Homo sapiens: one gene and its partners. The protein of the gene in region 3 interacts with the protein of the main gene of each other region in a pairwise test. Each region holds a gene or a part of one and is shown on either strand. Other genes may lie near its edges.

Region 1 (3,655 bases), on a different chromosome or scaffold from region 3:
CCCAGGCCTCCCAGGCCCAGGCATGAAGGGCGGACCCTCAGATGGGCCTTCAGAGCCCATCACAGGGTCCCAGGCAAGCCTACACGGCAGGTAGTGGAAATCAGGCCTTGAACCCACCCCCTGTGTTAATGAAACTCCAGCCCAGCCCCTAATACCTGCCTAGACCCAGGCCCCACTCTGCCTAGAAGCTGGAGAGGCCTGGGGTGAGCTGGGGCCTTTGCATCCAGCTGCATCCAGGCCAGGGTATTCTGGGGTACCAAGACCAGAGGCAAGGGGCGAGCCCCAGGCATGAAGGTGATGGTCAGGAGCACTCCTAGGAGAAGAGATGCAAAAAGGTGGGAAGGCCCAGCAGGGGACACGGCTTCATACCCAAAAGTCCAGAACATTCCACCCCATGCCCGACTGCATCTAAATTCCAGGGCTGAGGAGGCCTTCGGTGAGGTCCTGGCTCCCTCCACCCCTCTTTCTCCTCTGTGCCTGCCTCCCTATTGTCTCCACCCTCTCTCTCTCCTTCTCCACCCCGTCTCTTTCCTTGGTCCAAGGCCTGTCTCCCATTGCTTCTGGCCCTGCCCTCCCTGTCTCTCCTTCTCTCTTCTTCCTCCCCACTGCTGGCCTCAGCCTCACCCTCCCTCTGCCTGGCCAGATAGGCCCCGCCACCACCGTCTGGCTGCCACTTACTCCTGGGCCACTTTTAGAAACATGACTCATGGAAAGAGAAGGGAATGGAAGCTGCTGTGAGGTCATGAAGGCCCTCCCCATGCAGCTGCCCCCGGAGGACCCCTCCCCAGGAAGCCCCAGCACCTTCCACTATGCTTTGTGGCCGTCCCAGGGGCTAAGTGCACTCACACAGGGGAGATGGACCACATCAGCAAAGGCTCACTTGCAAAGATGCCCACTTGAGGCCACTTAGGCTGCCTTCTCCCAGGCAGGGCTGGTGCACCCAAACACTTCCCAGCTGGGAGACAAACTACCCAGCTCCCATCCTCAGGATATGGGAGTGTCTCCAAGGCCATAGAGAATTTTGCAAAATCCAAGGTAGGGGGGCACACCTTGGAGGTTTTCCCAGCCCCACCCTGAGGCCATCCTACAAGAACAATTCTCTTCCCGCCTTTGTCTGCAGCCCTGGGTTACAGGGAATGACTCACATCCCCTCCCCTGCCTTGCAGCCCCAGCTTTGGGCCTTTCCTGGCGGACCCCAGGGCTACATCCCTTAGGTCCGCCAGCCCTCTGGCCAATGCCCAGTTCCCTTTCTGTCCCAAGGTTGGGCCAAAGAGGCAGAAGCCCTGTGTTCAGGTTCTGACTCTTCTACTTTCTGGCACCATGAGCATGGCCTATTCCCTCTGGTCTTCAGTCTTCCCATCTGCAAAATGGATCTCATTGTCCGTGCCTGCTCTCCAGAGCAGCTGGGAGGTTCAAAGGCCAAAGGGGCCGTCTCAGGGCTTTTGGAAAGAGTTGTCGACGCAGGAGGGATGGGGCAGTGGTAGTGACTCTTGTTTTGGTTCTTCTCATTGTGTGTGCAGGATCTGGGGACAGGCAGAAGGAGTGACGGCGGGTGGAGCTGCTGGCAGAAGCCTGCCCAGAGTTAGGACAGGCTGAATGGGGTTGAGGCTGGTGAGGCCAGCCCGGCTAGTCCTGATGCCCACCCACACTTGCACCTGTGAGGCCCCTGTCCCTCTGTATCTGAGCCCTCAGGAAGCTCGTGGCTCCTTCTATTCCTCTCTCTTCTGCTCTCCAGGGTTGGCCTAATTGCTAGCTGGCAGAAGTCCTGAAACCAGCCCTTCCCCGATGATTAATGGAGTCATCGCTGTAAGTGGCTCCCGCCTTGGAGAACCCTCCCAGCCCCATCCCTCACAGATGTGACCAGAAAGAGCTCATCTCCTCTGGTTCTTAACCAGGTGCGAGAGCCCCAGCCCCTACCCAAAGACAACATGCTTTTCATGCAAAGTGGGCAGAGCAGAGGGTGATAGTTCCAGGCCCTGTACTCTGAGTCCTTGGGAAGGGGAGGGGTCAGCCACCTGCCCTGGGAATTCTGGAATGTGCCTTCGTGACTGCTGAGAACCACATGGGCTGACAGCCTTCCTCTCCAATACCCACTACCACTACCACCAGGAAGCCTCCCCTGATAGCTTCAACATCTACTGACAACCTTCCTTCAACTATCTAATACACTTGCATTATTTACATCTGGAAACACTTGATAATTCAGAATTGGAAGGGGCACTCAAAGGCCTGTTGAAACTCAATGTCCAGGAAAGAGCAGGTAAAATACTTCAAATGTACGTTACTGTTTACAACCCATTAAATTTGAAAACTTGCTTAAACAAGGACAGTTCCCATTGTAGTCACTTGTTTTATATATATGTACATATATATTTGCACATCCCCAGGTAGTTTTGCCTGGCCCAGGTCTTATTAAGGCAAAAAAAAAAAAAAAAAAGTAAGAATCAGAACAATTCTCAATTCTCAATTCTCAATTGTCTTCCCGCTTTTGTCTGCAGCCCTGGGTTTTGTGAATGCAAGTATTACCGAAAGAATAATCCACACATTTCTTCTGAAGTGTCAGAAAGATACAAGCTCTCCATTTTGTGCTAAGCCCTTGTAAGCCCACTACTCAAGGCCCAGTTCAGACCCCACCAGCTCCTAGAAGCCTTCCCAGATCCCTGGCTGGAATTAACTTCTGCTCCCACCCACCATGCCCTCACTGAATTCTCTGTGCATCTTGTAGGAAATCAATCTTCCTGCGGCCTATGTGGGTGCATCTCCTCCTGGCCTGGGAGCTCGGTGAAGACAGAGTGGGGGACCTCTGCCATTTCTCTGCCCACGCCTCTGAGGGGAGGCTTACTGTGTGCTGATAGAAGTGGCAGAGAATGCTAATTTTCTAGAACTCCCACCCTTGCTAGGGGCAGCCTGGCTCCAGAGATGCTCTCCGGACCCAGGGCGGTCTTCTTCACTTTCTAGCTGGGAAACAATGGGCCAATCATTAGCCTCTGGGAGCCCTAGAGGGCAGCCTGTGCGATGGCTCAGTGAGATGATGACGCAGAGGCTGAGGCCCAGGGAGGATGCAGCAAAGCCAGGATCCTTGCCCCATAGTCTGTGCCACCCTACACTCACAGGTCAATGGGCTGGCCACTCCTAGGCCCAGTCAAGGGACCTGGCTATTCCCAGCTTGGACTTGGGAGCTGGCAGAAGGTGGTTCTGTGGCTGCCAGTGTGTCCTGGCTCTAGGGCAGCCCAGGGATGATCTCTCCAGGCAATGTGCTCTAAGCACTCCCTGCTACCCATAGACAGGCCAACCAGGGTGGCTTCCAAGGCATGGGGCCCCTGACTTGGCCTGGGCACCCTGGTGCCCTGGCCTTGGGGAAGAGCAGGCTCCAGAGCCAGGCCTGACTGAGGCTCTGAGCTTTCGTTCTCAAGGGATAGGAGACATCGAGGCCTGCCCTGCCCACCCCAGTGCCTCCAAGACTCAGCACTGGGCAGTGAGGGGACCTATGTGGGCTCCAGAGTGTCACTCCTCCATGGGTGTTCACACGTGGACATGGGGGGATTCCTGGTTTTGTGTGCCTCTGTGTGTCTTTGTAGATAAGTGTCTGCTGTGTCTGTGATGACCACATGTGTCCAGGGCTGACTCCCTCTTTCTCTTTTTTGTTAGATTGTAA
Region 2 (3,655 bases), on a different chromosome or scaffold from region 3:
GCCTTCCTCTGGGCTTCACTTTCCACTTCTGTAAAATGGGGTCACAATACCTTCTCTCTCTGCCCATCCATAAAATGTCTGTCCAGTTCAGGGCCACGTTCCAGTAAAGCCTTCTACAGTGTCTAATTCTAGTCCTCAACCTCAACCTCTCGCACCTCAGACATGGAGATCTTACAAGGCCACGCTCCTGACTCAGCTGCTGTCTGCTCAGGGCGCCCCCAGCACTGAGGGCCTGAAATCCACTGAGGTGCCGAGTAGAAGTGATTGCCAGCCGGGCACAGTAGCTCATGCCTGTAACCCCAGCACTTTGGGAGGCCAAGGTGGACTGATCACTCGAGGTCAGGAGTTCGAGACCAGCCTGGCCAACACAGCAAAACCCCGTCTCTACTAAAAATACAAAAATTAGCCTGGCGTGGTGGCAGGCACCTGTAATTCCACCTGTAATTCAGGAGGCTAAAGCATGGGAATCGCTTGAGCCCGGGAGGTAGAGGTTGCAGTAAGCTGACATTGCACCACTGCATCCAGCCTGGGTGACAGAGTGAGAGCCTGTCTCAAAAACAAACAAAAAAACCCAAAAAACAAAAGAAGTGATTGGCACAGGCTCTGGAGTCAGACTGGCCTGGGCTTGAGTCCTGCCTGTGCTGCCTTCCAGCTGTGTGACCTTGGGCAAGCCCCTTCCCCTCTCTGGGCCTCAGTTTTGTCACCTGAAACATGCGAACATAAGAACACTCATCTGCCAGGGTCCGTGGGCTCTAGAACTAGACGGTCTGGGTCTAAGTCTTGGCTCTGCCACTTCCACGGGGATCATAAGGGCATGTGCTATATTACATGAGTTAATGTGCATAAGGCACACAGAACAGTGCCTGGCACATAAGTAAGCACCCAGGCTGTTTGCTCTCCTTCTTCAGTGAGCTGGTACCTGTCAAGTGTTTGAAGGCTTTCTGGCTAGCAGTGAGGGTATATGTATCCGCCAGGAGGGAAGCAATCAGGAGACTTCCTGGAGGAGGAGGCCTGGCAGAAAGGATACAGAGCCGGCATCGCTGACAACCTGCAGCACCACGGTGATGGAGGTGCGGGGGTGCAACGTGCCCAGCACCACCGCCTCGCACGTGTTCCTGATCAGCCGCTCCCGGCTCTTCTCTGCAACACCTGGGGAAATTGAAGAGAGGTTCAGGGTCTTCCCCTTCATTTGACTCACCTTCCTCCATACGCCTCACCCAAATTCCCAGAAAGGGCTCACGGTCTCAGCCTGGGATGGTGCAGTTACCTGCAGGGATGATGGAAGATTCCAGTGGGAAGAAGGCAAGGCCTGACTGCCATCCACTGACCCCTGCTACCTCCAGCATCCACCAAGGGAACCATCCAAGGGAAGAAGACCTGGGAGTTCCATGTCTGTGCTGCTACCCACGCCCACTCCCACCCTAGCAGGTCCAGTCAGTGGGGACTGAGGGATATGAGGGTAAAAGGGTGGAAAAACAGGTTAATGGTCCAGGCACAGTGGCTCGCGCCTGTAATCCCAACACTTTGGGGGGCTGAGGCGGGCGGATCACTTGAGGTCAGGAGATCAAGACCATCCTGGCCAACATGGTGAAACCCCATCTCTACTAAAAAAATACAAAAAATTAGTGGGCATGGTGGCACGTGCCTGTAATCCCAGCGACTCGGGAGGCTGAGCCAGGGGAATTGCTTGAATCTGGGAGGCAGAGGTTGCAGTGAGCTGAGATCGTGCCACTGCACTCCAGCCGGGGTGACAGAGCGAGACACTGTCTCCAAAAAAAAAATAAATAAATAAAAATAAATAAAAGAAAAACAGGTTAATGGAATGAATGAGAGTGGAGGCAGAGAGAGGGAGAAAAGAGGGAGGGAGAAATTAGAGGCAGAGAGAGAAGCAACAGAAGATGAGTTATTAATTAGAGGCGGAGAGTTAAAGACAGAAACAGCTGAGTGGAGACCCAAGCGGGGAGTGGAGACTCGGGGCAGCTGGTAGGGAGGAGCTGGGGGGGTGATTTTGACAAACTGGGCACCACTCAGAGGTTCAGCAGGGCCCAATTACCAGGCAGCCCAATCTTCGGCCTCAGGATCACTTCGAGTGTGGCCTTGTTGAAAATCTCTTTGCTGACCTTCACCTCGGCCGGCCCGTACACACCCGCCAGGACAGAGGTGTCACCTGAGGAGACAGCAGGGAGGGCCTCACTCACAGCTTCCCTGCTCCTGGGGCCCCATTTGTGGCACTGAGCCTGACGGCCAGGGCTCCCCACGTCACCCCCGCCATTTGTTGGTACTGATTCTTTGAGCACTCACTTCATTTCTCTCATTTGTAAAATGGGGAAAATAGCAGTCCCTCCCCGCTAGCGTCTTGTGAGGATCAAAGGACACAATTCACAGAAAACACTTAGAACACTGCGGGGCTCACGCTGAATGTGCAACAGACTTTAGCTGTATTAGTAACATTCGTCCATTCAGGCATTCAGGCAGGGTCTCACTCTCATTGCCCAGGCTGGAGTGCAGTGGTGCCATCACGGCTCATTGCAGCCTTGACCTTCTGGGCTCAAGTGATCCTCCCGCCTCAGCCTCCCAAGTAGCTGGAACTACAGGCATGTGCCACCATGCCTGACTAATTTTTATATTTTTAGTAGAGAGGGGATTTTGCCATGTTGCTCAGGCGGGTTTCGAACTCCTGGGCAACTGTAATCCCAAGGTGCTAGGATTACAGGCGTGAGCTACCACGCCTGGCCCTGATATTAGTAATTTTTTTTTTTTTAATGAGATGGAGTCTTGCTCTGTCGCCCAGGCTGGAGTGCAGTGGCGTAATCTCGGCTCACCGCAACCTCTGCCTCCCGGGTTCAAGCAGTTCTCCTGCCTCAGCCTACTGAGTAGCTGGGATTACAGGCGCGCGCCACCACACCTGGCTAATTTTTTTATTTTTAGTAGAGACTGGGTTTCACCATGTTGGTCAGGCTGGTCTCGAACTTCCTGACCTCATGATCTGCCCGCCTCCCAAAGCGCTGGGATTACAGGCGTGAGCCACTGTGCCCGGCTGGTATTAGTAACTTTTAACAGGAAGTTCTTCCTGAAAGCTAACCATCCTCCCTCTTACTGCAGCTGCTCTCAACTTCTCTTTCCAAAGCTTCCCCAGCCCAGCTCTTCCCTTAGGCACTGGCCCCCAAATTTTGCATCAGTCTGGACACCTGAGAAAGGGATAATATCTGGAATGAATCCTGATTCCTTATTTCCCCAGAAGCTATGAACGGGGTACAGGAGGTAAAACCTAAGAAATAAACAGCCTGGCTTCTAGTACTGTCTGCTGTAATCCCAGCACTTTGGGAGGCTGAGGTGGGTGGATCACCTGAGGTCAGGAGTTTGAGACCATCCTAGTCAACATGGTGAAACCCTATCTCTACTAAAGATACAAAAATTAGCTGGGCATAGTGGTGGGTGCCTGTAATCTCAGCTACTTGGGAGGCCGACGCAGGAGAATTGCTGGAACCGGGGAGGCGGAGGTTGCAGTGAGCCGAGATCACACCATTGCACTCCAGCCTGGACAATAACAGCAAGGCTTAGTCTCAATAAAAAAAAAAAAATACATTTTAGGCCAGGCATGGTGGCTCACACCTGTAATCCCAGCACTATGGAGGCCCAGGTGGGAGGACTGCTT
Region 3 (2,418 bases):
TTAGAAAAACAAAAACAATGCCTGACAGCAATGGAATAGTTGAAATTCTGTCCAGCAATGAGATTTGGGCATGACAAAATCAGCATCTATAATGATACGTGTTTTAATAGCACTTCAGTATTGTTTCCACAAACACATTTTATAAATAAATTATACTTGTGTTTATTAATTTTTAAAAGCTCTTGTTCTCAAAAAAAAGCTTTACATAGAGAAGTATTTTCCTCTTTTAACAATTGCCTGTTTATGGCTTTGAAGGAGGAAAAAAACTAAAGAAGCTACAAAGCTAAAACTGTTAAGCATATATGAGAAGGGGATAATGATAGTATCTTTGTTATAGAGTTACTAAGGATTAAAAGAGATAATCCACATTAAGCATTAGAACAAGGCATGGCAGTAATTGCACAATATAATTTATAATCATCATCATTCCCATCAACCTCTGTGGGAATAAGCGCAGAATGTCCTTATTTTTCCATTAAAATTTCCTCCATAGGTTTTCTAAGTGCAGTGGTGGCATATTCAGTCTATAGGAAAGACAATTCAAATGTTTCATGACTTTGACCTGTTTCCGACATATTTTTTGTTATCGTTTTACATATTGATCTGATGAAACATCTGGCATTTATTATTTAAAGGAAGAAACTAAATAAATATTTTAAATGTCAAACACAGCCATGGACTACAGGTTAAACATCTGTGGCAAGGTTTCCACAGATAAAGCAATATTCTTTTCAGTTTGGCTCTGTCTGGCCAGTTGTACCTGACAGCTGATCTCTGGGTTTGTAGAATGCAATCTTGGGGAGGGCTGAAATAGGTGCCTTCCTAGTAACCTGCGTTGTTGTTTTGTGGTAGTTCAGATAAATGCTAGTGAGGGGAGAACTTTAAACTTTGGGTTGATGATCACCCAGGTATCTAGTTAGCGCATAAAATTTTCCAAAGCTCTTCACCTTAAAAGGATCCTGACAAGTGAATAACATTTCTGGAACTTACAGTTATCATTTAAAGAAGCATATATCTCAGTATCTTTTAAAATCTGATGTCAGGATCTAGTAAAGACTCTGGGAAATAAAAATTAAATTCATGTCAAGGAAGAAACAGATAAACATTTCAGGAAATGTGATTATTTATTTCTTATTCCTGGCCTGGTTTCTGTAGGCATGCATAGCCTTAATATGAGAGCAATGAATTTGCTCCTAAACGCAGGCTGCTGGGTACACTCAGAGGGACCCGTTAACCCTGCTGTTCTGGAAATGCCCTCTTTGTGAGACGTGCCATGATTCCCATTTTAAACAACTCAATAGATACTTGCATTTTAAATTTTAAATTAGTGCAAAACAAATAATGTTACTTCTGCACACCGGGGAAAGGGACTACACTGCCAACGCTTACCACTAATGAGGCAACTCTGACCCATTCAGGGTCGCAGATCTCCTTCCCTGAGCAACTCCAGCCTTGTACCCAACTTGTTGCCTTATCATTGAAAGGGGGGGTCATAAAAACCCAAGACCCAGGCCCTAATCCTGGTCTCTTGATACTGCTGCTAACAACCAATAGCCCAGTGAGTTAAGCAAAGACAACCAAGTTGTGCATCTTAACTTGTTTTGCAATATGCTATTTTCTGGTCCCCAGATGAATTTACCTCTCTCAGATTTTCCCAGTTGGAACAAAATCTTTAACTTCACTGAGACAATGGTCTAAAGGACTAAAATACCCATTTTACTAGCAGCCACTTAGGAGGAGAATATTATTTTATCATGAATAGTCACTTAAATAATGCTGCTTATGGTGAACACATAAAATGGGGTCTTTATATAAAATAAGAGTTCAATAAATACTTGTTGAATAAATGAATGAAACAATGAACATCTGATTTAAAAATTGATGAACTGCTAAATGTTCGTATAAATCTTTGCATACCTGAACCAGAATGAAATTTTTACAAGGTAAAATTCAATTATGAGCCCTATGAGGACACAATGATGTCATGATCTTTTCCTGTTATACATAGTTTCCCAAGAAGGCTACATTTAAATGAACACAATAAAAAATGTACCAACTGAATCAAATTATATAAATTATATGAGATTAAGTTTCATAGCTTTAATTAGCCATACAATAACTTTTTAGAAGTATATCTCCTCCAAAAAAGTCATTTTTAAAGATAAAAACAAAACAAAAATGAAAAGCTTATCTATGAAAAATGTATGCACATATCCTGGGGAAAATACAACTTTGCCTTGGGATATTGAGATTTTTCTAGAAATGCAAAGGTCTGCAGCTCCATCTCTCATCCTATTGCACCCTGACTTTTCCCTGGCATTACCTTTCGTCTTAGACTCTGCTAAATAAAGGAACATACGCTAGGATGAAAAGTCTTATTCTGAAAAAATTATTATTATTTTATCCCCATTGAAAGAA

What was found.
Region 1: the proteins of PRDM6 (region 3) and AQP1 interact in binary tests that used the Homo sapiens proteins (3 or more experiments, as listed by UniProt).
Region 2: the proteins of PRDM6 (region 3) and EXOSC5 interact in binary tests that used the Homo sapiens proteins (3 or more experiments, as listed by UniProt).

Annotation. Positions count from the first base shown.
Region 1 is NC_000007.14:30,918,339-30,921,993, reverse strand, and holds part of AQP1 (aquaporin-1), read right to left. Parts: intron 1-3,655. UniProt on the Homo sapiens protein: Forms a water channel that facilitates the transport of water across cell membranes, playing a crucial role in water homeostasis in various tissues.
Region 2 is NC_000019.10:41,390,814-41,394,468, forward strand, and holds part of EXOSC5 (exosome complex component RRP46), read right to left. Parts: intron 2,168-3,655; coding exon 2,054-2,167; intron 1,150-2,053; coding exon 1,028-1,149; intron 1-1,027. UniProt on the Homo sapiens protein: Non-catalytic component of the RNA exosome complex which has 3'->5' exoribonuclease activity and participates in a multitude of cellular RNA processing and degradation events.
Region 3 is NC_000005.10:123,190,168-123,192,585, reverse strand, and holds part of PRDM6 (putative histone-lysine N-methyltransferase PRDM6), read right to left. Parts: 3' UTR 1-2,418. UniProt on the Homo sapiens protein: Putative histone methyltransferase that acts as a transcriptional repressor of smooth muscle gene expression.